Regions from separate parts of the Homo sapiens genome. Here regions 1 and 3 are each linked to region 2. Evidence: fine-mapped expression QTL. A gene starts in region 2. Each other region holds a variant in brackets. All regions are shown on one strand. Distances are between the middles of the regions.

The links. PIP is the estimated chance that this variant, and not a neighbour inherited with it, causes the effect.
Region 1: its variant is the best candidate, but not a certain one, in a credible set for the expression of FBN2 in whole blood (TOPMed, PIP 0.78).
Region 3: its variant is the best candidate, but not a certain one, in a credible set for the expression of FBN2 in whole blood (INTERVAL, PIP 0.86).

The regions. Positions count from the first base shown.
Region 1 is chr5:128,572,814-128,583,978 of GRCh38, forward strand. No RefSeq gene overlaps it. Among named protein-coding and RNA genes, the nearest start is that of FBN2, 40 kb to the left of the region's middle. The variant A/G (reference allele first, on the strand shown) is at 5,758.
Region 2 is chr5:128,532,932-128,544,096 of GRCh38, forward strand. FBN2 (fibrillin 2) reads right to left here and starts at 5,314. Exons shown (of 65, transcript NM_001999.4): 1 at 4,419-5,314; 2 at 3,471-3,553. The coding sequence starts at 4,672. RefSeq lists enhancers at 2,984-3,914, 5,640-6,140.
Region 3 is chr5:127,808,443-127,819,607 of GRCh38, forward strand. The region is part of intron 5 of CCDC192 (coiled-coil domain containing 192); the gene reads left to right. Among named protein-coding and RNA genes, the nearest start is that of CCDC192, 110 kb to the left of the region's middle. The variant A/G (reference allele first, on the strand shown) is at 6,746.

The DNA of each region.
Region 1 (11,165 bases), 40 kb after region 2:
CAGGGTAAAATATTTCACATATTGTACATATGTTTTGCTAGCAGAAAAAAAATTACAAAAATTAAGAAGTAGTTATTTTGGGCTTAGTATTTTACCATTAATATTAAAAAACAAGTGTATTTAAAATCATGATTTTAAATGAAAGCACACAATCTCTTTGCAGACATCAATCCCTATATTTCAAGTATAAAAGTATAGTTTGTATCCATTTCTAACATGCCAAATAATATAGTTGTCATGTGGTTATGTTTACTGTAACCACAAGAAGATAGATATGATTGCTCTTCATAGATACTGACAAGGGTAAAAACATCTGTGGAAGGAATTACGCAGTGACTAGGATAGTGCTGCCTGATCTCTTGGCTGGTATTTCTGTATTCTCCAGACCAATAAATGCAAAATGGCTTATTAGCTAATAGGCCCATCTGCAGATGGACCAGTGGGCTCGTGGCTCTGGGTCAGGTGTTGAAGAAATATTTGGTACCCTCATATTTTTGCTTTGATGGGGGATTTAGAAATCATCTAGTCCAGGGGAGGCAAATACATAGTATGGCTGTTGACCCTTCCCCTCCAATAGTCTTCTCCACCAAGCCTGAACTTGACTCTCAAATCTTTCTCAATATATTATTATGGCTAACCATTACTACTCAAATAGAAATGCCACATGTCATGAAGATTGTTTATCTTCCCTGATTTAGTTCAGCTCTCTAATTTTTTTTTTTTTTTTTTGAGACAGGGTCTCACTCTGTCAACCAGGCTGGAGTGCAGTGCAGTGGTGAGATCACAGCTCACTGCAACCTCCGCTTCCCGGGCTCAAGCGTTCCTCTCACCTCAGCCTCCTGAGTAGCTGCGATTACAGGCAGGCCACCATGCCTGATTACTTTGTATTGTATTTTTGGTAGAGACAAGGTTTCGCCATGGCCCAGGCTGCCTCAAATTACTGAGCTCAAGCTATCTGCCTGCCTCGGCCTTCCAAAGTGCTGGGATTACAGTCCTGAGCCATCACTGCGCCTGGCTGCTCTTTCATTTTTGGATGAGTAAACTGAGGCTCAGATAAGCTAAGAGATTGGTCGGAAAGAGACCGACCACTTGGCTATTAAGTGGCATGAATGGAATCTGAGTCTCTGAATTTAGTCCTGAAGACTTACACATTAACAGTGCTCCTGTGGGTAAGACATGGGATTTCCCTAATAATCATTAATGAGTCAACTAATATTCAAAGGCAACTGAGACCCGGAATCCTCTGCTAAAATGCTCAGCTTTGGGTAAACCATCAAGGTAGCTTTGGACCCATGAATAGAACCATGAATCTGGAACCTGGTATCAGAAACTAAACTCCTATGGTTTTCAAGAGGTGTAGTGGTAGGCAGGGCAGATGGCTCTGAGTCATGGTTAAAACATTCAGAGACATGTAGATGGTAAGTCTTGGAAGCAGAGAAATGAAGGGGAGTTTACAGGTTCTGTTTTAAGGACTTGCAAAAGGGACTGTGTTTATAGCACAATGTTTAGAGATAATGCAGCAGGAGCTGAAAGAGATGCTTGTTCCAGTTATCCAGTTTGTTTGAGAAGCTTGTCAACAGGAAACAGTGATTTGCTCTGCACATATGTTTAGATTGGAGAAACATTAGCAGTAAGACTTGCAAGAAGGTGCTGGGCAGCACAGTTTCAAAAATTGAAATAAGCTAAAGCAGGTTAGTATAGGGGTGATGTGTGGCTAAACAATCCTTCCAAACCTTAGCAGATGTCACCGGCCAACAGAATTCTCAGTTATCAGTAGCCACCTGGCTGACTCAGGAAAGGCCCTGGATATATGGCTCAGCGTGTCTTGCATCTGAACCTCTTGTGGAGTAGGATGCTGGAGGAGACTTGGAATTGGCTTGCTCTTCACCGCCAGTCCAAGGCCTTTGCCAGAGATCATATCCCTGACCTGAAGTTATTGAGCCCTTGGCGATCATCAAAAACATACATCTAGAAGAGCCAGTATAGATAGAACAACTTCACAATCATATTAAGCCTGCTTTGGACTTCGGGAGTTTGAAATATCCTATCATTTTTCTTGGTTATCACAAGAAGTTAGGGTGAGGATGCAATGCATTTTATGACAATGTGCACTGGTCTCTTTACATTACCATCTTTCTACATTTACAGGAGTTAGAAATCTGGAGGAAAGGTATTCCCTTCAATGCTGCACACAGGTGTTAGCTGGGAACACTGGGGAGGCACTAAAGTGTCAGATGAAAAAAAGCATGACAAGGAGCCTGGCTCCAAATCCTGATCCCCTCCTCCCTCTTGAATCCAGGTGCTGCCCACCCTACCTGCATGGCAGGTATACCTTCCCCAGTTTACACTTCTGAAGGTTTTGCTGAACCTAATCAGGCAAGGCTAGACAGTAGAATAAACAGACATTCAGAAATAGTCACACACTCCACCCTGTAAGAGAGTGGGAGATTTGGAGGGTGAGCAGACTATGAGTAGGGGAGACCCTAGGTGCCACAAGAAAATATTACAGTCTCCTTAACCAGAAGAAACTACAGTCAAATACATTGAGTCTTCCCAGAACAAGATTGGAGGAAGAGGCTATGGTTGTACCTTAAGCTAATAGTCAGATTTTATTTTGTTGAACCTTCTGGATGGACTTTTGGTTTTGCAGATTAAGGTCAGTGTATGGAGCACGCTCTGAGAAAAGCTCTATGGGGATGGATTGAGAGGGGCTGAGAGATACATAGAAATGTGACAAATCCTTTAGACAGTCAAGCTTTAGGGGAAATAGTGATATTGTATCAGTCAATACTTTCTGGCAAAGAACAGATGGCATATCCAAATTAGGGTAATTTGAAGAGAATATAATAAAAGGACTGTGAAGGCAGCATGTAGGAAAACTATAAGAGATACTGTAGAATCCCTGCACTAATAAGAAAAAGACATCATTGTCATTCCTAGATCTGAAGAGCAGGACTTGTTCAAAAGCTAGAGTCAGCAGGGCCTGTGATGAGAAGGCTGCCTACAAGGGATGAAACCTCTGTGGTGGAATGAAGACGACCCAGGACAACCCTGCAGGATATAGACCAGGGGATCTCAACCCTGCTCTTGCTCCTGCTACAATTTGCCATTGACCACAGACAGGAAGCCCAATGATGTGGTCAATGCAGGTCAACCTCCTAAGGCACAGACAGGGTGGAGAAGGGTAGAGAGAGATAGGATCTGAAGGGGAAATGGAAGATATTCAGCACCAATTTTTGAAGAGGATGTTTAGAAGATTTTGCTATATCATGTGGGATGTAAACCAATATTATTCCATCACTCCATGAAAATGTCAGTAAAAATCAGCCTTATTCATCAGTGCCTCTTGGAAGTAAATGTGTGTGAGTGTATGTATGGATGCTTGATGAAGGGCTTTATGAGGTTAACTTTAAGGCAGGTTCCACGTGAGGTTTAGCCAACAAATCTCAGTTGAATTGGGTTACCTATATTTGAGAGATATTTAGTTAATAGTGTTCCTTTTTAAGAAATAAGAGGGAATTATTTTCCCTTTTAACTTACTCTTTTTTAATTTTTAGTTTTTTTGGATTACATAATAGTTGTATATATTTATGGGGTACATGTGTTTTTTTTGTTTGTTTGTTTGTTTTTTTGAGACAGAGTCTCTCTCTGTCACCCAGGCTGGAGTGAAATGACACAATCTTGGCTCACTACAACCTCCGCCTCCTGGGTTCAAGTGATTCTCCTGCCTCAGCCTCCTGAGTACCTGGGATTACAGGCACCTGCCACCACGCCAGGCTAATTTTTGTAGTTTTAGTAGAGATGGGGTTTTGTCATGTTGGCCAGGCTGGTCTCGAACTCCTGACTTCAGGTGATCCTCCCACCTCAGCCTCCCAAAGTGCTGGGATTATAGGCATGAGCCACCATGCCAAGCCACGTGTGATATTTTGATACAAGTATACAATATGTAATGATCAAGTCAGGGTAATGGGATATCTATCAACTCAAGCATTTATCATTTCTTTGTGTTAGGAATATTCCAATTTTACTATTTTAGGTTTTTTGAAATGTGAATAAATTATTGTTAACTATAGTCACCTTATTGTGCTACGAAACACTAAATCTTATTCCTTCTATGTAACTGTATATTTGTGCCCATTAACCATTTCCTCTTACCCCACCTCCCCCATACACATCCTTGCCTTTGGTAACCATCATTCTACTCTGTATCTCCATGGGTTCAATTTTTTTAGCTTCCACATATGAGTGTGAACATGCGATATTTGTCTTTCTATGCCTGCCTAATTCCATTTAACATCATGTCCTTTAGTTCCATTCATGTTGTTGCAAATGACAGGATTTCATTCTTTTTAATGGGTGTATAATATTCCATTGTGTATATGGATCACATTTTCTTTATTCATTCATCTATTGATGGACACTTAGGTTGACTTTATATTTTGGCTGTCATGAATAGTGCTACTATAAACATGGGAGTGTAGATACCTCCTCAATATACTAATTTCCTTTTTTTTTTTTTTGATATATACCCAGTGGTGGGATTGCTGAATTATATGTTAGTTCTAATTTTAGTTTTTTGAGGAAACTCCATACTGTTCTCCATAGTGGCTGTACTAAATTACATTCCCACCAACAGTGTAGAAGCGTTTCCCTTTCTCCACATCTTTGCCATCATCTATTATTGCCTTTTTGATAAAAGCCATTTTCACTGGGTTGAGGTGATAAATAATTGTAGTTTTGATTTGCATTTCTCCAAAGGTTAGTGATGTTGAGCATTTTTTCACATACCTGTTGGCCATATGTATGTCTTCTTTTAAGAAATATTTGTTTAGATCTTTTGCCCATTTAAAATATCAGATTGTTGACTGGGTGCAGTGGCCAATGCCTGTAATCCCAGCACCTCGAGAGGCTGAGGTGGGCAGATCAGTTGAGGCCAGGAGTTCAAGACCAGCTTGGCCAACATGGCAAAAACCCATCTCTACAAAACTACAAAAATTAGGCAGTGTGGTGGCACACACCTATAATCTCAGCTACTCAGAAGGCTGAGGCATGAGAATTGCTTCAACCTGGGAGGCGGAGGTTGGAGTGAGCCAAGATGGTGCCACTGCACTCCAGCCTGGACAACAGAGCAAGACTCTGTTTCAAAAAAAAACAAAATAAAATAAAATAAGATTATTATTATTCTTTCATACACAAGGTCTTTCTATGTTACCCAGGCTGGAGTTCATAGGCCATTCACAGGTGTAATCATGGCACACTGCAACCTCAAACTCCTGGCATCAAGTGATCCTCCTGTCTCAGCCTCCTGAGTAGCTGGGATGATAGGTGCACACACCATGGCTATCACTATTGAGTTACTTTTGACTTATTCTTAAAGAAACTCATATTAATTAAAAATCCTATAACTCTCTTCCTGTCATTGGTAAAATTAAGACAAAGCATTACTCTGTGGCTTATGGGCTGCAGGTATTCTTGGATTCATGACTGGAGTACTTTCACAGTTGGGCCCTGCACCTAAGATGGTGCATTTCACAGAATAGGTACTCATTTTGTTGGGCTGAAATAAACAAATGTGTGAATGAATAAATGGATTGAAATGTTCTTGATCCAAGCTGGTGCTTGCTTCTGACAAGATAAGGCAGGGGAGTAACATGCCCCTCTTCAGGGGCAGAATGCCTTCTTTCTTTTGTTTCCCCTCCTTGTGTTTCCTGTTCCACCTCCTGGAGATAGGGGAGTTGAACAAGCATGGTGGCCAAT[A/G]GAGCCTAGCCATTTTGACTCCAGCCAGAAGCAGACAGGAGAGTTTCCCCCTTCCAGACTTGCAGACCTGTAGAAGTCTGAGGAAACATTTCTCTCTACGAGGAAAGCTACCTGGCTTCCCTTTCCCAGACACACAAATAACCCACCAGCTACCATCCATTCCCCTGTAGAAGAATAGCACCCCTGCAAGCTCACTGTCTGTGTTTACAAGAGAGAGGCCTTTCCTTGTACACAGGAGTGGATGGCAAAGGACGAGGCTTCATGAAGACTTCGTTGTGGGGTCCGATTTTCTTGCCTATGTCATTATACTTCACTCTGATAATTCTGCAGCATAAAGGCTGTATCTGAATAAAGTGACAGTTTTCCTTGTTTAGAACTATGTCTAATGTTACGTTTTCTTAACTGCCAGTGCTGGTCTGTGAAACACAGTGAGTCTTTCAATGTACTTTGGCAACAGCTTTTCCACTATTCCTGTATTTCTTCCGCCATTGCTTTCTCATCATCGATACAGATGTCTCTATATTTTTGCCAATTTATTTGATGGTGTGTTAACAACTGTTCTAAACAATTATGAATCTATTCTCTTTTAGTTTTCACGTCAAATACTTTATTAAGCAATAAATCAACCCCGGGAAATAGATTATGTAATAATCTGCAAACATCTTTACTCATTTTTCCACGAACCATAAAAATTTCATATATCTCTGCCTAATGACTAATTTTTCAAGTATGTTCAGAGGACATTGTTCCTGGTATTGACTTACTAGATGATGCTAGTAATTGCATTTTTTGTGAACCTACTCATTCTTTATAGTTACTGCCTTATTAACTGTTGGTGTTCAATGAGCTTATCTCTAGAATCATGCTGTGGTCTTTCATGTGCAGTGTTGTAACTTAGTTTCAGAGATCTTTTAAAAGGATTATTAATGTTAGAGCAACTGATAAGTCAAAATTTTATGTGTGTAAATACTTTTCAACTTTATTATGCTATTTCACTTGTGTCTCCCTCTGTGACATACATGCTTAGATCTACCAATGGGGCTCTCATCTCCAAAACATTAACCTGTATTTTCATCTTTACAAATTTTTCCTAGCCACACAGCCTAAAAAGCAACAACTCCACCAGTGCCCCCTGACTGAGGGATTCAGAGCCTCAAGTTTCCTCCAACATTTGTATACCGTCACTGTATCCCCAGAAAAAGTAAAATAATCCTCCTGATCTGATGGAATCACAAGTGAGTTAGCCTTTAAGTAGTTGACTTGACTTTAAAAAGCACACCGAGTCACAGCATTGGCATTGCAGCTGGGACATATAAAAAGCTTGGAAGCTGTCACTCCCATCCGCAGAAGAATAGTGCTGAACAACCTGAAAACCAATGATTTTCCTTAGACTCATCAGAGAATTGGGGTCACAGGGCAAATTGTCGCTGTGAAATCTAGAGAGACAAGTGAATACAGAAAATTGCAGTCAAGATCAGCTTATCTGGAGTAAAAGCTGCTGGAGCCATAAACTGATAGGAACACTGATAATCTATAGTCTATACAGTTGGAGGGCACACAAAATCCAACTTTAAAACTTGCTATAAAACCACAGTAATCAAGGGAGTGTATTATTGGAAAAACAATTGATACATATATCAATGGAATAGGATAGAGAGCCCAGAGATAGACCCATGCAAACATATTCAATGGATCAAAGCAAAGATGATCAGAGCAAAGATGATTCAATGGAGAAAGATGGTCTTTTAACAAGTGGTGCTGGAATACTTGGACATCTATATGCAAAGAAGTAATCATACTTTACACATGTCACAAACACAAACTCAGAGTGGATCATATATTTAAATGTAAACTGCAAAACTGGAAGATAACATGGGAGAAAATCTAGGTGACCTTGTGTTTGGTAACTAGTTTTTAGAAACATCACGAAAAACACAATCCAGGGAAGGAAAAATGGATATATTGAACTTAATTAAAAGGAAAAAAATGTACTTTGGGAAAGACTAAAAGAATCACCATTAACAGAATGAAAAGAAAAACTACAGCCTGGGAAAACATATATGCAAAAGACATATTTGATGAACAACTTGTATCCAAAATATACAAAGAATTCTTAAACTCAATAATAAAACAATTCAATGAAAAAAGGGAAAAGATCTAAATAGATACCCCACCAAAGAAGATATAAAGTTGGCAAATAAGGATATAAAAATGTTCAGCATGATTTGTCATTAAAGAATCACAAGTTAAAACAACAAAATACAACTGCACACCTCTTAGATGCCTGCAATTAAAAAAAAATACTGACAATACCAAATGTTGGTGAAGATGTTAAGCAGCAGAAATTCTCATTAATTGTTGGTGGGAATGCATGGTACAGCATTTTTAAAGACAGTTTGGCTGTTTCTTACAAAGCTAAACACAATCTTACCATAAGGTTCAGCAATCATGCTCCTACCTACTTACCCAATTGGTTGAAGACTTATATCTATGCAAAAAACCTGCGCATGAATATTTTTGGAAACTTTGCTAATAATCACGCAAAACTGAAGCCACCAAGATGTTTTTCAGTAGTTAAAAGAATAAACAAATGGTGGTATATCCATGCAAAGGAATATTACTCTGGGATTTTTTTAAAAAAGGGCTTTTAGGCCACAAAAAGTATGGAAGGAACTTAAATGCATATTGAAAAAAAAAGCAGTTTGAAAAGGCTGCATACTGTATAATTCCAATTTTGTAACAGTTTGAAAAAGGCAAAACTGTAAAGGCAGTAGAAATATCAGTGATGGCCAGAATTCAGGGTAAGACTGTGATGAGTGGAGATGAATAGATGTAGCACACGGGATTCTTAGGATGTTGAAGCTATTCTGTATAATACTGCAATGGTGGATATATGACATTAATCATTTGCCAAATCCCTTAGAAATTTACAACCCAGAGTGAACCTTAATATGTGTGAATTTTTAAAATAGTTTAGGAATTCAGGGATCCCAGGAATGAATACAGATAATGATAAGATAATTACACTGTATAACAAATATCTAAAACAATCTCATTGAAGTTGGTAAGGTAAAAGTTGCTGACCTAAGTACCTATGGACATAAATAGAGTCTGTTAGACTAAAGACAGAGAGAACTACTCAAAAGGACTGTACTCTAGTTGATAAAATACAGAGATAGAACTTTATCAGAGATATAAGTTAGAAATTATGATACTTCTGTTCATGTTTTCTAGAATAATAGATGGATGGCAGATGGTGGCAGCTAGTTTTCTCACTGTTGGAGTGGGAATTTAGATAAGCAAGGGGAGGAAGCCAGAACACTTCCCATGGTAAAAATTCAGCGATGGAGACATCAGTAATAATTCATGTTTAAAATGATAAAGATGGTTATATACAGAAACATTGATTGATGTGTATATATACATGAATTAGATACATACATATATTTCTCTGCTCTGTTACCTGGAAGGTCCTAAAAGAAACGATACCGTAGTAACAACAATCACACCTAGTTCCTAGTGCCCAGATCTTGTTTTCTAGTGTCTTTATCCATTAAAAAGGAACCAGTACTCTTTAGAGAAGTGGCTGTTTCTAGTACTGGGGCAGGAAATATACAAGATGAGACTGAAACATCTTGTAATGCCAAAAAGTAATAAAGTGCTCAAGATAAACAAATTAACAAGCTTTTTTTTTAACCTAGACACACACACACACACACACACACACACACACACACACACATTGTGGAATATAATGAAAAGCATAGGTACCAACTGAAAGAGCTTCCAATGGTCGAAGCAGGAAAATTTGAGTAACAAAATAAATAAATGGTGTTGAATTGTAACCCAAAATATAAAGCAACCATCCATAGAATTCATACTAATATAAATAAATTATTGACTGATACGGTTTGGCTGTGTCCCCACCCAAATCTCATCTTGAATTGCAGTTCCCTTAATCCCCACATGTCAATGGGAAGGACCAGGTGGAGATAACTGAATCTTGGGGACAGTTTTCCCCATCCAGTTCTTGTGATAGTGAGTTAGTTGTCACGAGATCTGATGGCTTTATAAGGGGCTTCCCCATTCACTAGGCACTCATTTCTCTCTCCTGCCACCATGTGAAGAAGGACATGTTTGCTTCCCTTTCCACCATGATTGTAAGTTTCCTGAGGCCTCCTCAGCCCTGAAGAACTGTGAGTCAATTAAATCTCTTTCCTTTATAAATTACCCATCCTCAGGCAGTTCTTTATCACGGAGTGAGAATGGATTAATACATTGACTAAGTTAATATATTGGGGAGAAGACACAATTATTTCATGCAGAAAAATTCCAAAAATTATGTAGTTACTCCAACCTAAAGACGGAAGAGAATAACTTCCTACTCTTTAAGTGTAGGCTACACATAGTAACTTCACTCCAAAGATTGCAGAACAAAAAGTGGGAGAAAAATCATAACTTTACAGTGGAGAAACCTGAAAGACACTATTTCAGCCATATGATCAAAGTCAGTATTCATAAATCATAAATCATGTTGCTACTATGCAATCTTGATATGACGTGACAAAAAAATTACTTTACGTTTGCCTTCCTGCTTCCCCAAACCCATAACCAGCCCCAGCTTAATGAGAAAAACATCAAATCCAGTAGAGGGGATTCCTACAACATGCCTGACCAATGTTCCTCAAAACTGTCAAGATCATCAAAAATGAGGAAAGTCAGAGAAATTGTCACAGCCAGGAGGTGCCTAAGGAGACAATGACAACTAGATGTAATTTGGTACGCTGGATGGGATCTTGGAACCGAAAGAAGACATTAAGTAAAAATTAAGAACAATCTTAATAAACTGTGGAATTTAGTTAAAATAATGCATCAATATTGATTAATCTGTTGGAACAATAGTCCCAAACTAATGTAAGATGTTAACAATTGGAGGAACTGGGTGAGGGTTGGGGGACATATGAAAACTCTCTTTACTATCTGGTTGATTTTTCTTAAATCTGAAAATTTTCTTTTGTTTTTTTGTTTTATTTTGTTTTGTTTTTGAGATGGAGTCTCACTCTGTAGCCAGGCTGGAGTGCAGTGGCACGATCTTGGGTCACTGAAACCTCTGTCTCCTGGGTTCAAGCAATTCTCCTGCCTCAGCCTCCTGAGTAGCTGGGACTACAGGCACATGCCACCACACCCAGCTAAGTTTTGTATTTTTAGTAGAGATGGGGTTTCATCATGTTGGCCAGGATGGTGTCGATCTCTTGACCTCATGATCCGCCCACCTCAGCTGCCCAAAGTGTTGGGATTACAGGCGTGAGCCACTGAGCCCAGCTGAAAATTTTCTTTAAAATAAAGTCTATTAAGAAAATGAGTATACAGAATCCCCATTGTATACAATGTAGCTTCGAATTCTGCAT
Region 2 (11,165 bases):
CAGGAGGCTGAGGTCAGAATGCAGCTTGAGCCCGAGAGGTCAAGGCTGCAGTGAGCTGTGATCATGCCACTGCATTCCAGTCTGGATGACAGCCAGATCCTGTCTCAAATTAATAAAAAAAGAAAAAGTGAATAGTGTCAAATACTGTGATGTTAAGATAAAAATATTTTAGGCAAGAATATGTTTCCTGCCATGGAGTTGACTCTTACTTCTTAAAATGTACTACAGTTTCTGATCACCAGTAACTCTCCAATGACAAATGTGCATTAAAACATTGTTTTATTTCAAAGTTTCCTCCTCCCCAGAAGGCCAATATTTAGTCTAGGCTTAAGAGAGGAGACCCAAAGTACCTCCACCCGGGTTCCAAACCAAATGAAGGTTTGATGGGCTGGAGACTGAGCATTCTCAGGCATTTACCTGTCGTGGATACAGGTATATACTCTGTATCTGTGAGCCAATGAGAAGCAAGAATGCTGAGGCCCTTTTGCCCCACAACAGCCTCAGACTATGGTACACTTACTGAATACGTCCCTCCCACAATTACTAAAACTATGAGACCTAGAAATACCAGAGGGAGAGGGAGACAGGACCTAGGGGCTGAGACTTCAGTGATGCTGTGAGAAGTCACATGGCCAGGTAAAGAATACATAGTACCCAAAAGGTCTGAAGTTTAGTTGTCACTCTGCCATTGATCTGCTATGAGCTCCAGAAAAACCCACAGCCTTTCTGGGTTCAGTGTTTTCATTTGGTAGCATAACATAAAGGAATTATACCGGAATGCTCTGATGTTTCCTCAGGTCTCAAATGTTATTTAGTCCAGCCAACCTCATCCCACTCTTATTATATTGATCAAAATACTGTTCATAGCATAATTTCACAATAAATAAATTAATAAGCAAATTGTTTCATTGCTTCATGTTCTAAGAAGATTAAAAAAAAAAAGGTGAGAAAGTCAATTCCGTACTTTTGGAAATGAATATTTGGAAGTTTGGAAGTACTTCAGTAATTTTTCTAGGCTACAACTAAGCACAATACCAACAAAACATAGAGACTCAAATCAAAATGCATTAGGTTTCCAGAACTTGGAGAATTACAGTTTCTTTTTAATATCTTCTCCTTATAAAGCCTGTCAAACACTAAAATTCTGTTGACCATTTTTTATTTTTCTATATTAAAAGAATGCTGAGGTACAAATGTATGAGAAAATTAATATTTGGTTTTTATTTATTTGTATTTTATTTATTTTCTTTTTTGTAAATGGTCTCAGATACTTTCTTTTGCTAAATGGTGTGATACAGATAAATCCAATAAATATAATAATTTACTTAATTCATTATCATCAGGAAGGCCTGGAATTAAAATTCTTGATTTTGAGTTTATAACGGTTTCATTTCACTTATTACCTCTACATATGATCATTTTAAATGTCAGACTAATTGAACTACTGAATTGAATGCAGGCTATTAGCATTAAATGAGACTCATGCAATAGAATATAAAGGTATTACACTGTCCCTATTTTGTGCACTGTTTAATAATCTTAGGTACTTAGAATTTTTAGATGTGTTTCTAATAAATATTTTTGTAGATACGTCTTGACACAAGTGTTATAAATGTTTCTTACAGATATAAAGATCATTTCAAAGTTTACTCTCATAGATTTCTGATACGTGTAAATTCCAATGTAGCTCATAACCATCCAAATATTTCAAGTCTCAGAAATGCAGATTACAATAGTCACTGTTACCCTGAGATTTTCAAAGCTGATTTTCTACCAGTGATCAGTGGGGCCATACATATATTTCTACTGCAAATATTCTGGAAGGCTCTGCTCTCTGGAATTCCCATTCCACACTGATCCAATAAAATCTGACTTTACAGATTTTCAACACGTACCATGAACCAATCCCTCCTCCTCGGCTGCTCTCCAACTCAATAATGGCAGTCACATTCATTACATTTAGTGAGTCAGACTTTCCGCCGTGCCTAAGTCACTCCCAGCTAGTATGGCAGGTGTGTGATGAGTGACGTTAGCTGTTTCAGGAGTCTAAAAAACCGTGTAAGTTTAAAGCAGCCATGGTAATGCCCTACTGGCCTGAAAGAGTAAACCCACCCTCCATTAATGCCTCACATATGACTTCTGTGTTGGAGAGAAAAGAATGCAGAACATGTTCTTTTAAAAAATAAAGCAAAGGCTTATTATAATCAGAGGATTTGTTCAAAATATTTATAAGTCACTTTAAATAACACAGTTGTTTCCTATTTTTGCCATTGGAAATAGTGGGATGTTAAGGTAGAAAAAATAAGAAGAAATTAGTCTTTATGACACTGGAGATTTCATCTCTTTTTTAAAAACTGCCCAGAAATAACATTAAGCATCTATCTCAAAACCACAAAACCAATAAATACAGAGTTAGAAATGCCACTACATCCTTATTATCCCTTGGTTAGTGTGCCTTGCCCTTTTTCTCTGTTCACAGTTGCATAATTATTTTCTCCCTGGAGAACATGGAGGTCAATCTAAAGTCAAGACTGGCTCTAAATGAATGTGCTGTCTATGATACCTGGCTCTCCTTCCAACAAGACAAATGTGGTTGTGCTACATAAACACACAGGAGAAGGCCAGTCACACTGCAAGTCACAAATTTACAGGCATATGAAATAAGACATCCCAGAGTCCGTGACTGTGAGGCTGATAACTAATGAGCTCTCCAATTAGAACTTGGAGAACTGGTTATACACTTTGGAAACAGAATAAAATAATCAAAACTTTTAAGGTCAGAGATACAGAATTTTTCAAGGTCTAAGATTCATACTTTGGAAATCTACTGCACACTATTGAGGTTCAGGGTCTGGAAACCCTAAATTTAAACGTCTTCCAAAAAGCAAAAAAAAAAAAAAACTCAAGCCCCTTTGTAAGAGTTCTGTCTTTTAAAAGTTTGTTAACTTAGGTCAACACTAAATCCGCGAGAATGCTCCTTTCGTATCTAGGTTATGTGGTTGTTGATATAAAACCAGAAATAAGAAAGTGGTTTTATATAAATGCCTAAGAAATCTTGATCTTCATAAGGCCCAAACCTCAAGCAGAGTTAAAAGCCTGATAATTTGCATAATAACATGTGGTCTCATCTGGATTTTTTACAGAAAAAGTGGTTTTGAGTTATCTAGATAATTGCTCTACTCCTCCCCTCTTCCAATTTGTATTAATAGACATAGAAAGATAAAACTTTCAATTATCTTTGAAATCTTTATCATTATTGCCCTTCAACAGAGTCTAGAAGTGAAGTCTGAACTGACTCAAACCGGTTGAGTCTTCCCCACTATTCAAATGGGGCCGCGTCCCGATTATCAGTGCAATGTGATCACTTGATTTTAAACGCAACTATGCGTCCAAATGGCTGAGTGCAAGAGGTCGGCCGGAGATAGGGCCGAGTGCGCTGCCCCAAGCTGCGATCCCTGCCAAGCACTCACGGACAATGCACTGGTTTCCTCCAGGGAGCGTCTTCCATCCAGGGCAGCAGTAGGAGTGGAATCTGGAGCCGCACACGTTGGGCCTGTGATGGACAAGCGCGGTCACGTAACAGATAGGTAGAGGGATGCAGCAACATATAAACGGTCTTCGTAAGCAATGCCCCGAGCGAGTAGATTTCAGGACAACAAACAAATCAAAATTACACTTCAAATTATTGGAGATCGGGAGGCAGACGTGGAAGCAAAAGAGCTAGATGCTGGAATGCAGGAGGGTCAGAAATGTCTAAACACTGCCTTTCATCTGTCGTCCCTTGCCTGCCTTTTTAAAGGGCGAAAAGAGGCATGGAAACATATAATTTGCTACTATTCTAGCTTCCAGATGCAGAGAACAAAGGGACCATTCCGTTCCAAAGAATCCTTGCCCTCCTTCCCAAATCCATTCCTCCTTGGTCAACTGTTACTTTGGCCCCGACGTGTCAAGGAAAGCGCGTCGCAAGGTGGAGCGCTCGGGTTGACGATGAGAAGGTGAGCTGTGAACCCTGCACACGTCCTCAAACAAAAGGCTCACGAGCGGCGGCCCCGACGTGGGGAGCAAGCAGGCTTCTCTGGCCCCTGCAGCAGGCGGACCCAGGCCCGCCTGCCGCCGGACATTCAGAACCTGTTCCCGCAGCGCGAGCTCTGCACACGCTCTGCGATCGGCACCCCTGGACCCCCTAACCACCCGCCGCCCAACCCCCGGAGAGAGGGCTTTCCGCCCGCTGAGCTGCGGGGTTGGGAAGGAAAAGGGGGACGCGCTCCTGGGGGTCTTTGGATATTCTGGCAAAGGGGGCTGCAGCTCTAGGCTCCAGCTAAAGGGTCTGGGACGGAGTGGGCCAGAAAGCCGCCAAACTGAGGATTCCCCCCTCCCCCAAGCCGGAGCCCTAGGTGCGGAGCCGCTTGCCCACTTACCCTCGGAGCACGTCCTGCTGTCCTCGCCGGCGGACGCGGCTGGCCACTGCGGCACCCTCCTCGCGATACTCGGGCGCTAGAAACCCGCCTTCAGAGCCTGCTGTAGCGGACCGAACCTGTTGCGGCGGCGGCTGGGGCCGGGGCGGCTTGGGCGGAGGAGGCTGAGGCTGGCCGGCCGTGCCCTGCGCCCAGAGCACCACACAGCCCAGCCACAGGAAGTAGAGCTGGAGACACAGCCTCCGTCTTCTCCCCATCGCCGGCGCCGAAAGCGCGCGGCCGTAGACCCGCGGAGAGGGAGTGATCAAAGACAAAATCTGCGCGCCTCAGAAAAGAGTCAGGGTCTAATAAGCCCTTCGTCGGCTCCGGGGACTCCCTCGGGCTCGGGCTCCCTGCTCTAGCTGGAGACCTCGACAGAGCGCCGGCCCCCTGACTGCCCGCGAAGCGAGACGCGGGGCGCCGGGTCTAGCGCAGTGAGCGGCGAGGCGCGGCGGAGGTGCAGCCGGCAGCCCCGAGCGGTACACGTTGCATAACCGGCCTAAAGCCCCGAGCGACTCCAGGACCGTCAGCGGGCGGGGGAGGAAATTACAAAAGCCCTGGCGTAAAATTTCAAAAAATGTGAACCTCAAAAGAAAAAAGGGCCTGCACGCAGAGCTCGGCGGATTCCCGTGCGCTCCGAAGACGGATATTGGAAAGCTGCAAAAGTCACCAGAAAGAAACAGGCAAGCAAACAAAAGTCGCCCCCAGAAGAAGAGGAGGGTTCCCTCCGGGCTCGCTCGGAGTCCCACAGGGCAACGAAGCGCGGGTAGCGGCTGCGGAGCCGGGCGGAGGTGCGCGGGGCCGGGGCGTGCGGCCAGCAAGAGAGAGGGCGGGAGGCTGGGCGCTGGAGAAGATGCGGCGGTGGAGGGCGCGGCGCGGGGGTTTTAGAGGCCCGGCGGGGCGCGGGGCGGGCCGGCGGGCGGCGGCTGTCAGTGGGGGCGCGGCCGTCCACACGTGGGGCTCAACCCGGACTGAGAGGCCGGCGCAGAGTGGGCGGGGACAGAGTAAGGGAGAGATCGGGACTGAGGAACGAGGGGAACCAGGGTTGGGTGAGGGGAAGAGGAAGGAAGGGGGGGAGGGCGAAGGGAGGGAAGAGGACGGAGATTGGGGAGAAGGGGGGCGAACCCGAGAGGAAGGCCGGGCTGGAAGAGGGACTTGGAAAGAGGGATTGGCGAGCCCGGGTGCGAGAGGAAATGAGCGGGGGATGGGGGCGAAGTTAGGGCAAAGAGAGAAGTGGGAAAGGAGAGGGAGGGCCAAGGTCCGGGCGCCGAGAGGAGGGGCCCGGGGGGCCGGCTGGAGGGGGCGAGGCGCTAGGCGGCTTTGCTTCCCGTCCCCGTCAATTGGCCGCTAGCTCTGTTTTGACTGCCTGTACAAAGCGAGTAGACGGCGGGGGATGGGGCGATTAGGGACCGGATTTGGGAAAGGAGGCAGCAGCCCCTTCCCCTCCCCCTCCGTCCTCGCCCGGCCGCGGACCAGGGACTAGGGTGCCTAAGCGCGCCAGGCTTGGCCGGACCCGCAGCTGAACTGACCCGCAGCTGAACTTCCCCGCCGGACAGAGGCCGCAAGGTTGAGGATGAGAACGGGTCTTTCTGTAGGGTCCCGGCCCCTGACCTGGGATGGGGGGATTCGCAGTCAGCCAGGAATAGAGGCTCACGGGGCTGTTGGTTGCAGCCTCAATCCAAGAAGGAGGAGACCTCCCCTTTGCCCTCCTACCCCCACCGCCCCACCGGGAGCGGCGTCAGTCTGCGGGACCAAATTAGGGGCTGGGAGTTTCCAGATTGAAATGCGCCCTCCACCACCAAGAGGGAGCTCACGCGGCCGCGGGGGGCCGAGGCAGCCAGCCGGCGCCGCGGTCCTGGGGAGTCCGTGCAGGGGTGTGCTCTGGTGTGAAACCTGGCAGGACTCTGCCTGGGCTTGCATGCAGGGAGGGGTTAGAGACTCTGAAATGTACTAGCGGGCAGGGTGGTGACAAGGCGGGTAAATGAGGCTCGGGGCATGCCCTTGCTTCCTGGCTTGGACCCCTTCTGATTGATTAAATCCTAGCAATTGGTGCAACCCTCTGTACCTCTTAGAGTGCCTCTCACCGGCCTGCTCTGGGTTCTTCCTTTGTGGCCCTCCTTTCATGAAATCTCTGTGAAGTCCTGGTCATTTCTCATTTAGTGGAATATCACAATTTAAAAATCAAACACTCCTGAAAACAAGGAGAGACCATCCAAGCACAGTTTGCGAAACAGTACAAAAGAGCAGTGTCTGGTTTATTCAAGCCTAGAAAACCTTAGTTTAAAGGGGAAAATGTTGAATATGTATAGGAGGGTGTGTGTGTGTGTGTGTGTGTATATATATACACGTACATATATACATATATACACATAACATATATATGATATATATCATATATCATATATATCATATATCATATATATGATATCATATATATGATAGATCATATATGATATATCATATATATGATAGATCATATATATCATATATATGATATATGATATATGATATATATGATAGATCATATATGATCTATCATATATATCATATATCATATATATCATATATATCATATATATCATATATATCATATATATCATATATCATATATATCATATATATCGTATATATCATATATCGTATATATCATATATATCATATATCATATATATCGTATATATCATATATCATATATATCATATATCATATATATATCATATATCATATATATGTATTTCTGGCCCAAATTGCCCAGATGTGCTATTTGACAGCCAAAATTCTCCAGTAATTGGCACAACTCCCTCCTTTATTTCTCCATGTAGTCAAAGGGTCTGAAGGTAGTACCCCTTGTTACAGTATTCTCATAAAGCAGAAGAAAAGATAAGAGTTACATAATTTCATGTGAGACACCGATTTGTTAAAATCCAGAGAAAGAGCAATACAGTTATTTTCACGTACTTCGCTTCAAATAATAAAATTATTTAAACTAAAAGAGCTAACTAATGTAACTATCTCCTGGTTTAAAGCAGTGTTTTAGTCATACCATTTAAAACATCCTGTATCTGCTTTTTTTGTTGTTGTTGCTGTTGTTTAATACTTACGTGGCTTCATGGTTCATTCCTGTCCATCACATTAAATCTAAATGCTCTAGAATTGCCTATGCCTTTACCCTTTGATCCAGCAATTCCACTTTTAGGAACCTATATAAAAGATACATAGACAAAAAAAAATGAAATGGTGCATACATTTGACTGTTCTTTGCAGCACTGTTTATAATAGTGAAAGACTAGAAACACAAACTTCCCATGAACAAGCAACTGTTGTGTATGACTTCATCTATTCAGTGAAGTATTATGCAGCTGTCAAATATGAATGAAGAGAAACTCTGTATGCTCTTAGAGAGTGATCTCTAGCATATACAGTCTACTAAAATAAAAAAAAAGCAAGGTACAGATAGACTAGGCAGTTCATTGAGACAAAGTAGAATAAAGGTTACCAGGAGCTCCAGGAAAATGGGAAGGATGAGTTATTGTTTAGTGAGTACAAAGTGGTCTGCCTAGGATGATGAAAAAGTTAGAAATGGATAATGGTGACGGTGGTCCAACATTGTGCATGTACTTAATGCTACTGAATTGCACGCTTAAAAATGATTAAAATGGTAAATTTTATGTTATGTCTATTTTTTACAATATTTTTTAAATGAAAGCTGTATAATATTGTATGCTACTTTTTAGGGGTATGAGTGTGTTATAGATTTAACAACAAACAAGAAGTATAAACTAAATCTAATAAAAAATGGTTATCTGTAGAGAAAGGGGAGACTATGAGGAAAGAAACAATGGTGGAAGCTAAACCTTTCTAAATAAACTTAGTTTTATAGTTCTGGCTTTGGAACTATGTTCCAAAGACCTAGAAATAGTGACAACCCAAAAACCATAAGGTCATTGTGACCAGATTGTGGTTCCTAAATACCATTTCTAAATTAAAGGAATCAGGGTTCCTTGGGTGAGTGGCAGATTCTAAGTCTGGGAAAGGAAATGCATAAAGTGAATCTGGACTATCTGTCTTGTCATGCCTGAAAGCAAGAAATTATCTGACTATTAAGGTCATGTCAAAAGGAAACCTGAGCTAAGTTGAAAGAGATCTTGCTGGTTAAGGATGGGGAAACTTGAGCATCAAAAAGAAAAAAGAAATGACAGCAAAAGATTGAAATACATGAAGTGTGTCAGTATTCAAGATTTCCGAATGATACTCCAAACAAAAATTAGTTGGCCACTTTTGGAGGTTGTTAGGGCACAGCTCACTATTCTAAACGCATCGATAAATAAAATTATTAACCAGTTATTCTTCCTTTGCTAGAAAGACCCAGAGAAAGTATTTCTTTTGAAAAAAAAAAAAAACCACAGTTGTAAATGCAGGAATGATGGAATTAGAAAAATCACTACTTGTAAACCCTAATAAAATAATGGACCTAGGCAACGGTTTTTAACAACTGCTAAAACCATTAGGTAAGAAGTGTTCAACTTGTGGCCATTTTTCCTCAGGGTATATTTGGCAGTAATTGGAGACATTTTTTATTGTCACAACAAGACAGTGTGTGGGAGTGGTGATGAGAGTATCAGAGATGCTGCTAAACATTCTACGATGTACAGGCCAGTCTCCCATAGCAAAGCATTATCTGGTCCAAAATACAAATTTACTTGGGAAGCCGTGCATCAAAAAGTCAATTGGGAACTTTTTAGTGAATGTGTCAAGCTGTTACCACCAGAACCTACTGATTAATTATTAACTTATGAAAAGTAAGACAACCAGACATTATGTTTTTATTTTTATGGTGCAATAGGAGGTACACAGACCACCTATGAAATATCTTTGTCAAAAAAACTGAGCCTGAATGTAACCATATCTCTACATTTAACTCCCAGTTTCCAAGAACAATAGAGGACCATGAAACATATTAAATGATACCTTGAGAATATAGGTAACCAGATCTAGAATGGGATATACCACAAGACCAAGTTCTTCAAATAAATGACATCAGTAGAGAAGAGGGAGGGGAACTGTTATGGCACAACCACCAAAAGCAATGCTTGCCCCTTATCTGGGATTTTGATATGAATGTTAGTGAAAAATAACATTTTTGATGCTATCATCCAGTCTAGTAAGTCTTATTTATATGGTTGCAGCTACAGTCAATATATAACTGCAACTGCGTGAGACACCCCAAGTAAGAACTACCCAGGCAAACTCTTCTGAGTTCCTGACCCATAAAAGGCTAAGGCAAAATAAATTTTTTAAACCTATAACTTTAGGGGTAATTTGTTATGTAGTGATAGAACACTGAACTGAACACTGGTTACTAGATATTAAATATTTATTTTTAATTTTGGGAGATGTGACAATGGAATCATTGTTATATTTTTAATATACTGGCTAATGTTATACTTACTAAAGTCTTTATAGATGAAATGATAGGATGCCTGGGTTTGATTCAAAATACTGCAAGAAGAACAAAGGCAGAGTGGATTAGATGTACTTTATTCCTCTTGGCAAGTATACTTAACTAAACATAAATAAATATATGTGGAGAGAGAGAGCATGCACACATAAGAAGACTGTAAATGGTAGGGAGAAGAAGGCAGACTAGTTACCCTGCTAGTGACCTTGGAACCTGAGGAATGACATGATGGTGGTTTTCCTGAATTGTCTTTTGCTTTTTGTATCCCAGAATGAGTGCTAGGAAATCTGGCAATTTGGAAATGCCATTGGCAACAGACCAAAGAAAGCCTCGAAAGAAAGCCTGCCCTCTCTAGCCAAAAGACAAGAAAGGGATAGCCTAGAAAGACAAAACACTTTTAGACAATAACTGCCCTAACCAAACCACAGAAAAAAACTGTAGTCACCTTTACCAACAATGGCCAAGTAAGGAGCCTAGACTTTCATCCTTACCAGGGTGTAGCAAGGTATCCCTCCCCTTCTCCTGGATAGTGTCAGAGAAAGCCAAGTGGAAAGCTCAGACTTTCATCCCCCTGCACAGTCGTGAGCCACCTTCTCCCCATGGTGTCAGTGGAGAAGCTGGACTTCCACCTCCACCTAACAGTAATGAGATGCCCCTGTCTGCTGGGATGGTGTCAGAAGATACCTAGTAGATGCTCAGGAATCTTCTCACTGCCCAGCAGTAATGAGGCCATCCCACCACCACCAAGGTGTCATGGAATATCATGGGAAACTACATTGGGAGCAGTAATGAAACACCACTGTCCTAGCCAGAGTGGTACAGAAGAGCTTGAGTGGTGACCCTGTACTGTCACCCCTGCCCAGTAATAAATAACAAGTTACTCCTCCCCTCAAGAGTGTCAACAGAGGCTGCATGTAGATCTTGGACTTCCACCGTCATCTAGCAGTAATGAGGCATCCCTTGCCCTGTCTGCCCACCATTGCAGTATCAGAGGAGGCTGCTAAAACAAAGAATTTAAATATAACCCAAAGTCTCACAAAATAAAGTAAAAAATGTCCAAGATTCATATACACCTACTATTTACCAGCAATTTTTTTTAATTCCAAGATTCAACTGAAAATCATTTATCATTGAAAGAACCAGGAAGATCTTAACTTAAATGAGAAAAGAAAATCAATACACATCAACACTGAGATGACACAGATGTTAGAATTGTCTGACAATATTCTTAAAGCAACTACAATAAAAATGCA
Region 3 (11,165 bases), 720 kb before region 2:
CAGTTTCATGGACTGTGGATTCAGTTACATAATTCTCACTTAAAACCCTCAGTGGCTGCCCATAGGTCTCCTGATACTCTCCCGCTACCTTCTACTGCTAGTTGACACCCAGTGATGGTGCTCGTTTGAGGACTTGGAATTCACTAAGAATTCCTCTAGGTTCAGGCCTCCATCCCTTTGCAGAGTGAGTCTTTCCCTCTGCTCCATCCACTACTTACTTTCAACAACTGGCACTCATCTCCCCTAAAGGGCAAGCCTTTCTTGACTTCTCAGTAAGAAGCCAACCTCTCCTTGTGCATATTCCATGGATCTCTTTTTTGCCTTTATTCTACTCCATTAGTTGAGTTCCCCAGGTTCTGGGACTTGGCTTTATTCATATACAGTTCTTGACACACAGGAGGTGCTCAGTAAATACCTTGTTCAATGAATGAGAATGGAGTAAGTGAGAGAATGTATAAATGCCATATACCTGGATTTAATGTTGATTTTTAAAAATGAGCAAAGTAACAGCAGTTAAGTGTGTCTCTCTATAGCAAATCGTCCAAAAAAGATACTAAGAGATTTATTTGTAATTTTATCTTATTTTCAAAAAGAAAGAAAATCAAATAAAAATTTGCATCTCAAGGGGATACAGCCTGTTACTTTATGAATGTTAAACTTTTGCTGTTCTCTTGATACAATTTTACACTGTCATTAAATATTAACTATAATGTTTAATTTAACCATATTTATTTATTTATAGTCTAAGTTCAAAAAGGATCTGAGATTGTTAATAAGATGCAAATGTGTGAAATAGTTGTATTTTTAAAAAGCACTTAAAGAGCCATAATTGAGAATATATATTTGAATAAAATAGAAATATCAGGAAAAAAAATAGAATACACATATGTGAGTTCTAACTTCCCATGCAATATAGCTGAAACATAAATATGGCTTTTATCTTTCTAACAGCCAAAGGCAGATCAAGGAAAATGATCAAATAAATAATTAGTGTGTTGGGGGGGATGCTACCATTCATTTCTGTTGAGTTAAGCCTAAAATGAGATTCTATGTTGAATTTCATATAGGGAATATTGAAAGACATAGTGAGGGGAACACTCATGAACATATCAGACCAGCAAATGTAATAATTGGTTTTATTTGGCTGTTTCTGTAATTTCCATCAAAAGAAGCCAAGGACATAACATGTAAATAGTTAATCTTTCCTTATTGTAATTCTAGGCTAGCTAGTATTGCATATAGTTTTAATCCCCAGCTATTTATGATAATCCAGCTGGCAAAGTCTACTGCAGTCGAAGGCCAAGTAAGTAATGTAGAAGAGGGAAGATGGTCAGAACCAGTCATATGGGTCTGGAGGGTGCCTGACTCACATAAAAAGGAGAATAAAGCCCAAGATCACTAATTTTTCAGACAATGAAAATCCAGATTTTTGGTGTGAAATCTTCTCATTTGTAAATGTTTTCAACTGATTTGAATAAAACAGATTGCTCTGTGTGGCAAACAAAATACATTTATTCATAGCCTAAATATGAGCCTTACACTGGATTTTACATTCAGGCTGCTATTTTCTTACATCTGTTCTACAATTTGAAAGATGTTCTCCAAAAAAGGCCAGGAATAAGTGAAGGAGAATTAGGTATTGTGGTGGTTGTTTCAGCCACTTTAAGTTTGCTAGTTAGATAATGCTAGCTTTTGTAACACATAGATCCCAGAATTTCAGTGCTTACCACAATAGAAGTTCATTTCTTTCTCATTCAAATAACAGTCCATTGTGGGACTTGCTGGTGGGCAGACTCTGCCCATTCATTGTTATTTAGTGTCATTCTGTGATAAAAACTGTTGGAGCCTCTGCTGTGCTCAGCATGTAGGATCCAAGGTCATTTTGGGGTCATCTCTATCCCAATTGGCCAAAAAAGAAGAGATTGTTGAGGTGTGGGCTTGGAAAACTTCTAACTGGTCATACGTGGAAGTGGTGCATTGGTTAGAACTCAGTCATGAGACCACATTAATTACAAGGAATGCTAAAAAGGGTAGTCTAGCTGTATACCCAGAAAGGAGAGGGGAATATGGATTTTTGTTAAGCAGCCCTAACATAAAATACTCACTTGTTAGAGGTAAGGCAAAAGTTGGCTGTAGTCTTTCTGATGGTCAAAATAATCATTTATAAAAACAAAAGCGCATCCATGGAATAAAATCAAGCCCAGCACTCAATGGAAGCAGCAACATTACTGGTGCAGGAAGGCATACTACCTAATAGAATAATAAATGTCCTCACTAATAACCTGACAGTAAACACAGTAATAAGCTTCACAGGGCAGTTTCTTATAAAATCAAATCTGACTCAGGCTCCATGTGTCATGTGTTAGCAGAAAGTTCAGTTTCGGTCATTTGGGAGGAAGGGTGGTCCTCTCTCCCTCCTGGGATTTGCAGAAGTACCCCAGTAACTTTACTTGCCAAAAGTTGGGGCCACTAACTTCTAGTGGGTTGTGACTTTCCTTCCCTCTGCTCCATGTCCATGCCTATGGGCCCATTCAGAGCCTTGTGGCTCTTTTTATTCAGTGCTAAGCTTTAACAGAGGGTTTATGGCAGCTCCTGGTCTATATACAACACTCAGCATCAGGCCTCTTTACATATAATTGCCTATTTCAGGTCTTATTACCCAAAGGACCTGTGTACAAGTGGAGTACGCTCTCTGCTGTCTTAAGAACCCCCAATACTTAATCTGCTCTAAATTCTGAAGCAACTTCCTCCCCTTAGGTTTTTCTACTTCCTTTTCTTTTTCAAAGCACCAATCTCCATTCCCTCCCTTGTTGGGGCATTTTCAGGTTGTTTTATTAATGAGACCAGGTTTCCCAACCAAAGGCTTTCCAGATGCTCAAACTCTACCACAAAAGTTAATTTCCTCTCCTTGCATAGGAGTTGGGGGTAGTGTTGGTAATGTAGTAGCAGCAATTCCTCTTTATGAGGAAGTTAATGTTTTAAGGCTGAACTTACTTGAAACTTAAGGGATTTTTTTTAGAGGGTTGTGTACTTAGTAATGCTTAGATAGGAAGGCTTAAACAGAAATGCTTAGACAGAAATATGTGCTTAGATAGTTGAGTCAAAATGTGATATATTTTTATTTATTTTGTTCGCGAATGTGAAGAAATACTAAAATTATTAGGTAAAATAAAATCAAAGCTGTAAGCATTAGTTCTTAGCACTGAAATTGACTTTGCCTACTCTTTCACCTGTTAGATATCTTTTACTCCCCAGTGATAAGTTTATTATCATCAGATTTACCAGGTGGTAACATACATAAGAGGAAATGTGAGTACCTACACCAATAATCATGATACGTGATAGAGTCATTGGCAAGGTCTGAGAAGAAAAGGGAGACTCAATAAATGCCTGTCTCTCCTCTCCCCAGCCTTTCCTCACACTATACACACCCTCCATACACACTGCTCCCTGCCCCAGTAAATTGGATGAGTTGACTAAATATTTAAGAAATTCTTGAGTATAAACTGCATGTATAGAACATTTTCCCCTCTGAACATTCAAGACAGACTGCTTTGGTTTAGAGCCCAGCTCTACCAGTTACTAGCTGAGTGTCTGAGTAGATTGCTTGATCCTGAGGCTTAATTTCCACGACTGCAAAATGGGGATACTAAATGTATCTAGCTCACCGATTTGTCATGAGGGTTAAATGTGTTAATTTTTATAAAATCCTTAGACTGGTACCTACAACACAATCAATTTTATGTAAGTGCTTGCTAAACAATAAAACAAAACAAAAAAATAAAACAACAAAACCAGCATACATTTCCATGTTTTGCTCAGTGGTAAGTTTTAACCACATTCTTTGTGAGAGAATGCTCTGAATGTTCAGCATCGTGATTATCTGTAAAATGGAATAATGGTAGAACCTACCTCAACAGGATTATTGTGAGAATTAAATGGGATGACACTGGTGAAGAGCTGAAAGTGGTCCTGGGATATAGCCAGCCCTCATTAATGTTGATGGTGATTATCAGTGCATCGGTGCTGCTGCTATTGTTGCCTTGTCCTGACCCTCATTTGCTACATATGCTTTGACATTTATCTAAGTGTTTAAAAGCATATATTTTTTGGTACCAAATTCCATTTTATTGATTTTAACTCTTAATTATTTCACTGTCTTCAAAAAAAATACATGTCCCTGTTGAGCCCAAGATATTACTCACTCATTCTTTCTGTGCACGAGGAGAGCATGTAGGAGACTGTTTTGTTTCTGCCAAAGGAGGAATTAGTACGGGGCGTTTCTGCTCACCTTCACTTGAGTAAGAACACAGTGATTGCTTTAGGCAGAGGTCAATGCCATGGGGAATGGAAAACTACTGCCTACGAGTTTTGCAACTGAAAAAGACAATCTTTGATGTTTCAAGGCAATTCTGACCACACTCTTTTTCCTCCACCTTTGCTGCCCTAACCTTTACTTTCTCAGCTTCCTGGAGAATGCCCTCCTACCTGTTTATCTCTAACTCTTGCTTGACCCCATAACCAAATGCCCCAACTGGGAATTTTTATGATGCATATTTCCTGTGCTCAGTGCTAAATCAAATGCAGCTGATTTTACCGTTTCTTTGACATCCATTTTTGGATGCATGTTCCTGGAGACATTTGTGTCCCTTTAGAGTGGGAGCCCGTGCAGGGCGGAGAAGGGCCTGATGGCACACACCTTTCCATGAGGCCCTTTTGACGTTACTGTTCACCTTCCTCATTGCGGGGGCCCAGGATGGGACTTAAACTGTCCCTATTTCATTATGTTGTTCTTTTTCTGCTTTAGCCTTTCCACTCTCAAATTCTCTTGTCAGGAATTCCTCTAGAAGCACCCTCAAGGAAATTGAATGAAAAAACTCAGAATTTTTGAAAATTTAAACAAGTAAATTTTTGTATAGTTTCCTAAAAATCATTGAGGATATCAATACCCTCTTTTGCAAAATAAAAAAGGAAATTGTTTCTAGCTTTAAATTTTATTTAAAATTTAAGTAACTGCTCATCTGCAGTTTTTTATCATTTGTAGTGTTTCAAATATAAATAATTCTATGTTTTGCCCAATCTCTTCCCTTTCTTTTATGTGCCATTTACTGAGGGCTGACATAAATCCCACTGGGAGACTACAGAGAGTAAAAAGCGACCTGGAAGAGTTTGCTTGAGCCTTTATGACTGAAAAGTTTTGTCATAGTCTCAGAATCTGTAACAATACTCAGTGACCATATTTAAAAAAATGATTCAGACAGACTTGTTCAAGCAGATGTGATTTCTGCAAGGATAGCCAGGTCAGAGTCCACAAATGGTTTAAATATGAATCATCTTAAAAAACAAAGAAAAACTAAAATAGTAACTCTACACTTCTTAAACTTTTTCCATTAAAAACTCATGACAATATTGTGTTATAGGAACTAAGAAGGACCTGAGCTTCTCATAGAAAGGATACCAGTAAATCACAAAATCCAAGAAGAGGCAAAGGAATGTAAAACCAAAATAAATAGTTATTAATTATTCATTCTTCAACTATTTTTACTGATCCTCACAAGCCAGTTTCTCATCCTTCAGGCTTAGTGGGTGCAGGGAGCCTTGGTTGTGAATTGCTATTGTCTGTCCTCACAGAAGAACTGGTTTAGAGGAAGGATTAAAAGGAAAAGCAGGAGGAGGTTTGGAGGGTCAAACAGGGAGGCTGCTTCAGGAGTAGGGGAGAATGCAGACGGCAGTAAGGGCAGGAGTGGGAGCAGGAACAATGTGAACAGTGAGACTAGAAGTTCAGTAGAGGGAATAGTCGGAAATCAGAATAGGAGGCGTTATTCTTCTTTGTGGAATTGCTAATAAGAATACAGCTAAATGTTTGCATTAAGCATTAAAAACAAGTTATGTCCAGTTTGAGCCCATGGGCATGTTTCCCCCTCAATGCTCTTTCCCGCATAAAACACACTTCCCCAGAGTGTGGAGCTCAGGAGGTAACCAAAGTAACCAAAGAACTCTGCCATGGTAACCCTTGCAAGGCTGCCATGTTGAGTTAAAGTGATTGTTGTGGATAAAAGCTTCACTGAATGGAAATGGAGGGTTGAGATTTTAGCCTAAACAGTAGCATGTTTAATGCTTATAAATGTGTAGTTTTTAGTTAATTGGAATAGCTAAAAGCTTAGTTGGGAAAAGACTCAGTAACATTTTGGGAGATCTTTCTATGACTTCTCCAAAACTGTGTTGCCCGAGGAATTTACTTTGCCTTTCAGCCCTGGATCTTAGAATAAGAATTTAGACTTTAGAATGACTTTCCAGCAAAGCAATCCCTTGCTGGTTAGTTTCAAGTCTGACATGTTTGGAAATTTGTGCCAATGAAATTCTAGCTGCACAGCTCCCACTGTTCTCCCATTCATGTCCTACGTACCTGTGTTGTCTTAAACATTGTTGAGGGTAAACAGTTGTTTTCAACATCTTCAGTATGGCGAATTTTTAAAAATATTTTTTAATTAGTTTTCTCTGATGGGTTTTTTTTATTTTTATTTTCAAGACAGTATGTGTTGGGAAAATTTCTGGCCTCAAAATATAATTCTTTGCACCTCTCATGAATAAATATTATGACAGAAGGATCTCTCTCTTTCAGCAATGACCATGTGTAGCCTTAAAAATGCTCAGTAGTAAGACTCTAGGCTGGTGTTTCTCTATCTGAAACTGTAGGTTCATGGGCATATTTTCAGATCTGTGTGGTGTATTAATAGACTGTGTG[A/G]CCTGGGAGCTATTGTACACATCAACTTTAACATATTTTAGAAAGAGTCGATGGATATTTGTGTGCCATTTTCTGTTGACTCCCGCATAGCAGAGCAAACTAAATCTGAGGAAGATGGTGAAACGTCAGAACAGCAAGTAAAATTCTTCCTCTCTCTTGCTGGATTTCATTTAGGAGCAAGTGATCAAAGAGACTGAAAACCTGGAATCTTGAGGCTGGGTCTGTCCATTGGCACATTTGGGGATGATAGGGGGTGGGGAAAATCAGGTTTTACATGATTTCTATAAATTCACAGAGTTCCTGCATGGAATCTACCTTCAGCTTCACAGAAACAATCTTCTCTAAGCCTTCCAGATTGCCCACAGGAGTCTAAGGAGTTTCTTTAAAGAGAGATGTATGGGCTGGCTATGGCGGCTCACACCTGTAATCCCAGCACTTTGGGAGGCTGAGACGGGTGGGTCACGAGGTCAGGAGATCAAAACCATCCTGGCTAACAAGTGAAATCCCGTCTCTACTAAAAATACAAAAAAATTAGCCAGGCATGGTGGCGGGCACCTGTAGTCCCAGCTCCTCAGGAGGCTGAGGCAGGAGAATGGCATGAACCTGGGAGGCGGAGCTTGCAGTGAGAGTAGGTTGCACCATTGCACTCCAGCCTGGGCAACAGAGCGAGACTCTGTCTGAAAAAAAAAATAAAAATAAAAGAGAGAGATGTACAAGAAAGAGAATTTGTCAAAATCCATGACTGATTATATTTGGGATCAGGTGTTATTAAATATACAGTATGTATATAAAAAGTACAAAAATCACATATTTTGTCTCTAAAAGGTTTCATCCATCATTGGTTAGATAAAGCTATTAGACAATGTACTTTAAAGAAGTTGAGATACATTAATATGTGTTAGAGAAAAGTAATGAGGAGGGGAGGGGCTTATGATGGACTTGGCAAAGAAATCATGATTTGGAGTTAGTGTTCTGGAGAGAGTGACTTAGAAATCAACATACTGTTGTGTGGATAAATATTTTATAATTAGCATTAAACATTACAAAGGGTTCAAATTGCATCAGTAAAGCTTTTTAGAGGGAATTTGCTCATTGAACCATGAAAAGGGGGGATTTTCTGCAAAGGAGGCAGACAGAGATTTGCTAGGACCCTAAAGCTAATAAGCAAATTTGGGATAAGCTTGTACTTAGTTTAGCTTTAGTGGGGCTTCTAAGGTAGAGTCCTGTGATATCAGTCATGTTCTTGTTTTACAGAAATACCAGTTTAAGCAGAATAGGTATTAAGTGAAGGCCATGGCTAACTCTCACTCTCCAGGAGAGCCAGAGAACCAGATTTGGAAATGGAAGCTGAAACAATGGTCAAATCACACCACAGAACTTCCCCAGGTAGCTTCCCACTGCTGTATAGTTCTAGCTGGTACCTCTGGCTCTGTGCACTGGAAGCCTCCACTAGAACTTTTGCTTCTAAACAGGGTGTTTCTGCTGTGAACAGAGGGCACATAGCAGCTATTCTTATCTGAATTCTGGCATAAATGTTTCAAGCCTTGCACTGAGGATGCGAGGGAGGCTTCTGCTTTGAGAAAGTGAGGTCTCAAGGTGGGGAAATAACCAAGCTTAGGAAAAGTGTTCAAAGATGGTTGGCAGGCAAAAAGAATGCTATAGTTCCATCACACCCAGTAAGTTTGTGGGTCTCAGATAAAAGAAAATCAAGGCAAGTTCAACTGTAGGCTGGAAAAATATTAGAGTTCTTAATGATTGACTTATTCCATGCTATTTGTTTCTTTAAACCTTGTCCTTCAATATATCTGGATTTAAATTTGTCAAACAAAGGTGATAATGTGATATTATTAGTTATTCATATTGTTAACATTTTTCTTATGAATCATAATTGATTGGATGCTGTGATAGTCTTTCTTTTCCACCTATTACCGGGTGCAATGTCACACCTGTTGGCAGTTGGTGGCTTACAGGTACAGTGCCTTGGAGGAAATAGTGACACCCTAATAAAGTGATTCTCAAATTTAGTGAGTCTTAGGTTCACCTGAAAGCCCTATTTAAAATACAGGTAGAAGAGTTAAAATATGACCCAGCAGTTCTGTTCCTAGGTATATACTGCAGAGAATGGAAATATGTCCACACAAAAGCTTGCACAAAAATGTTCATGGCAACATTATTTACAATAGCAAAAAACTGGTAACAACTCAAATGTCCAGCAATTGATGAATGGATAAACAAAATGTAAAATATTCAACTAATGGAATATTATTTATCCATAAAAAGGAATTCTGGTTCATACTACAACATGGACAAACATTGAAAATACTGTGTTAAGTGAAAGAAGCCAAAAACAAAACTCCACATATTGTAAGATTCCATTGATTGAAAATGTCCAGAATAGGTACTGGTTGCCATTGGCCTGAGGGGGTGAGATGGATAAGGAGTGAGGGAGTGACTGCTAATGGATATGAATTTATTTTTGTATTTATGAAATGTTCTGGACTCCGTAGTGATAGTTGCACAACTTTGTGAATATACTAATATTGCTGAATTGTACACTTTAAAAGGATGACTGCTATATCTCAATAAAAAATAAAAATGAAAACAGATTCTTGAATTATTTCCCAAAGAATCTAAATGCATATCTAGGATGAGGGCTGGAAACATGTATTTTTATTTGGATGCAGCTGATCTCTGAACCACGCTTTTAGAAACATTGCATCTAGTCCTTACATGTGTAAATCTCCTAAGCTATGACATTGTAGAAGTAGTCATACAAATCCACAATTCTTCAAAGTTCATGACCTTGCTTTAGAAAATATCCGTAAAAATAGTACAAATTACTATCAGAAGAGTCTTCAGAATAAAGTATATGAAAAAACCCAGCATAGCTTTTTCCCAAATCACTGCTCTAAAATCAATGGGCGTAGTGATTTTTAATCAACATGATATTTACATATTTTTTTGCTTATAACCTGCTTGCACTCTGGAATAAATAAATTGCTACCTCTTAATGTCACTTGATAAGAGTCTAAAATACTTGAATTTGAATATATAAATCCATTAATTTAGCAAAATTTTAACATCAGTCTTATGCATTGGGTTGACATACTAAAGACTGAGTCTCTAGGACTTTGTCATCTAATGCAGAGGTTTTCAACCTTGGCCACCATTGAAGTCAACTGGGAAACATTTTTTTTAAAAAACGAATCCTGGGTTCTACTCCTAGACATCCAAAATTCTATTGATTTGGAGTACAAACAAGACATGGGGACTTTTAACATTTCCTCAAGTCATTCTAATGTGCAACCAAAGTTTGGAATTACTGCTATCAAGAAGAGATTACATAGAGACCCCATACATAGGTCTTATAGCACATTATGACAAGTGGAATGATCGTGGCTGTCAAAAATTACTATGAGAATTCAGAGGAACCATCCCTAACCCAGGGTGGAGCTGGAGACTGCTCCAAGAAGCCATCAGGTATGCCAGTGATACCTGAGCTGAGTATTAAATTAGGGAGAGGAACTGTCCAAGGGAAGATGGGGGTGGGAGTGATCTAGGCAGAGGAAGTAGCCTGTACAAAGGCAAGGAGAGTTGAAAGAGCCTGGATGTTAGCTAGGGGAAAGGACTGGTAAGGAAAATCCCAAAAGGCATGTCACATATTTTATAGCTGGCTACAGCCATTGGAAGTTTCCTCAGAAACCAACTTGAGTTGGCAATGCTGGGACTTTCAGGTCATGACATCTTCTTGCTTTGTTTCATTTGAGGAAAGGCAACAACTCCTTAATACCCCACATAATGGATTCATAGTAGAAAAAGAAAACCTAGCAGTGCTGGGCTCTTCCTGTGAGATTATTAACTGTTGAAAGGGATCCTAGCTTTCATTATTTGTAAACTGTTTCATACATGTCTACCCATATCCATTTCAATGTCACTTTTCCGGAAGTCCCTGAAACCCATGGCTCCAGATAAAGACCCCCTACTGTCCCTAAATTAAGCCACCATTGAAAGCAAGGAGGGTACACGCTAAGGCAACTACTAGGAAGCGCGCTAACAACGACTTTCCCTCAAGAGATGCCTGCTTCTTTCTTATCCCCAAAAGAACTTCAGGGCTTGGGTAGGCACCACATAATTATGTCAACAGACTCTGCTCTAGGTTCCTGACTCTGTATTCTTACTCTCTCCCCAGTCAGATTGCCATACAAATACAGGCGGTTCTCAGGTAGGGTAAATAACCATGTTATTTCCACAGGAATATTTGAGATTGTAGGGAGGTTGCCTTTATCTGGCAGGGTGGAGTCAGTGATGTGATAATATATGTTATCTTTTTTGAGTCTGGGTGGTCACTTCCATCATGTGACTTTAAAGACCTAAAATGAAAGAAGTTTACATCTTAGCAAACATTTAATGCCACAGTGAA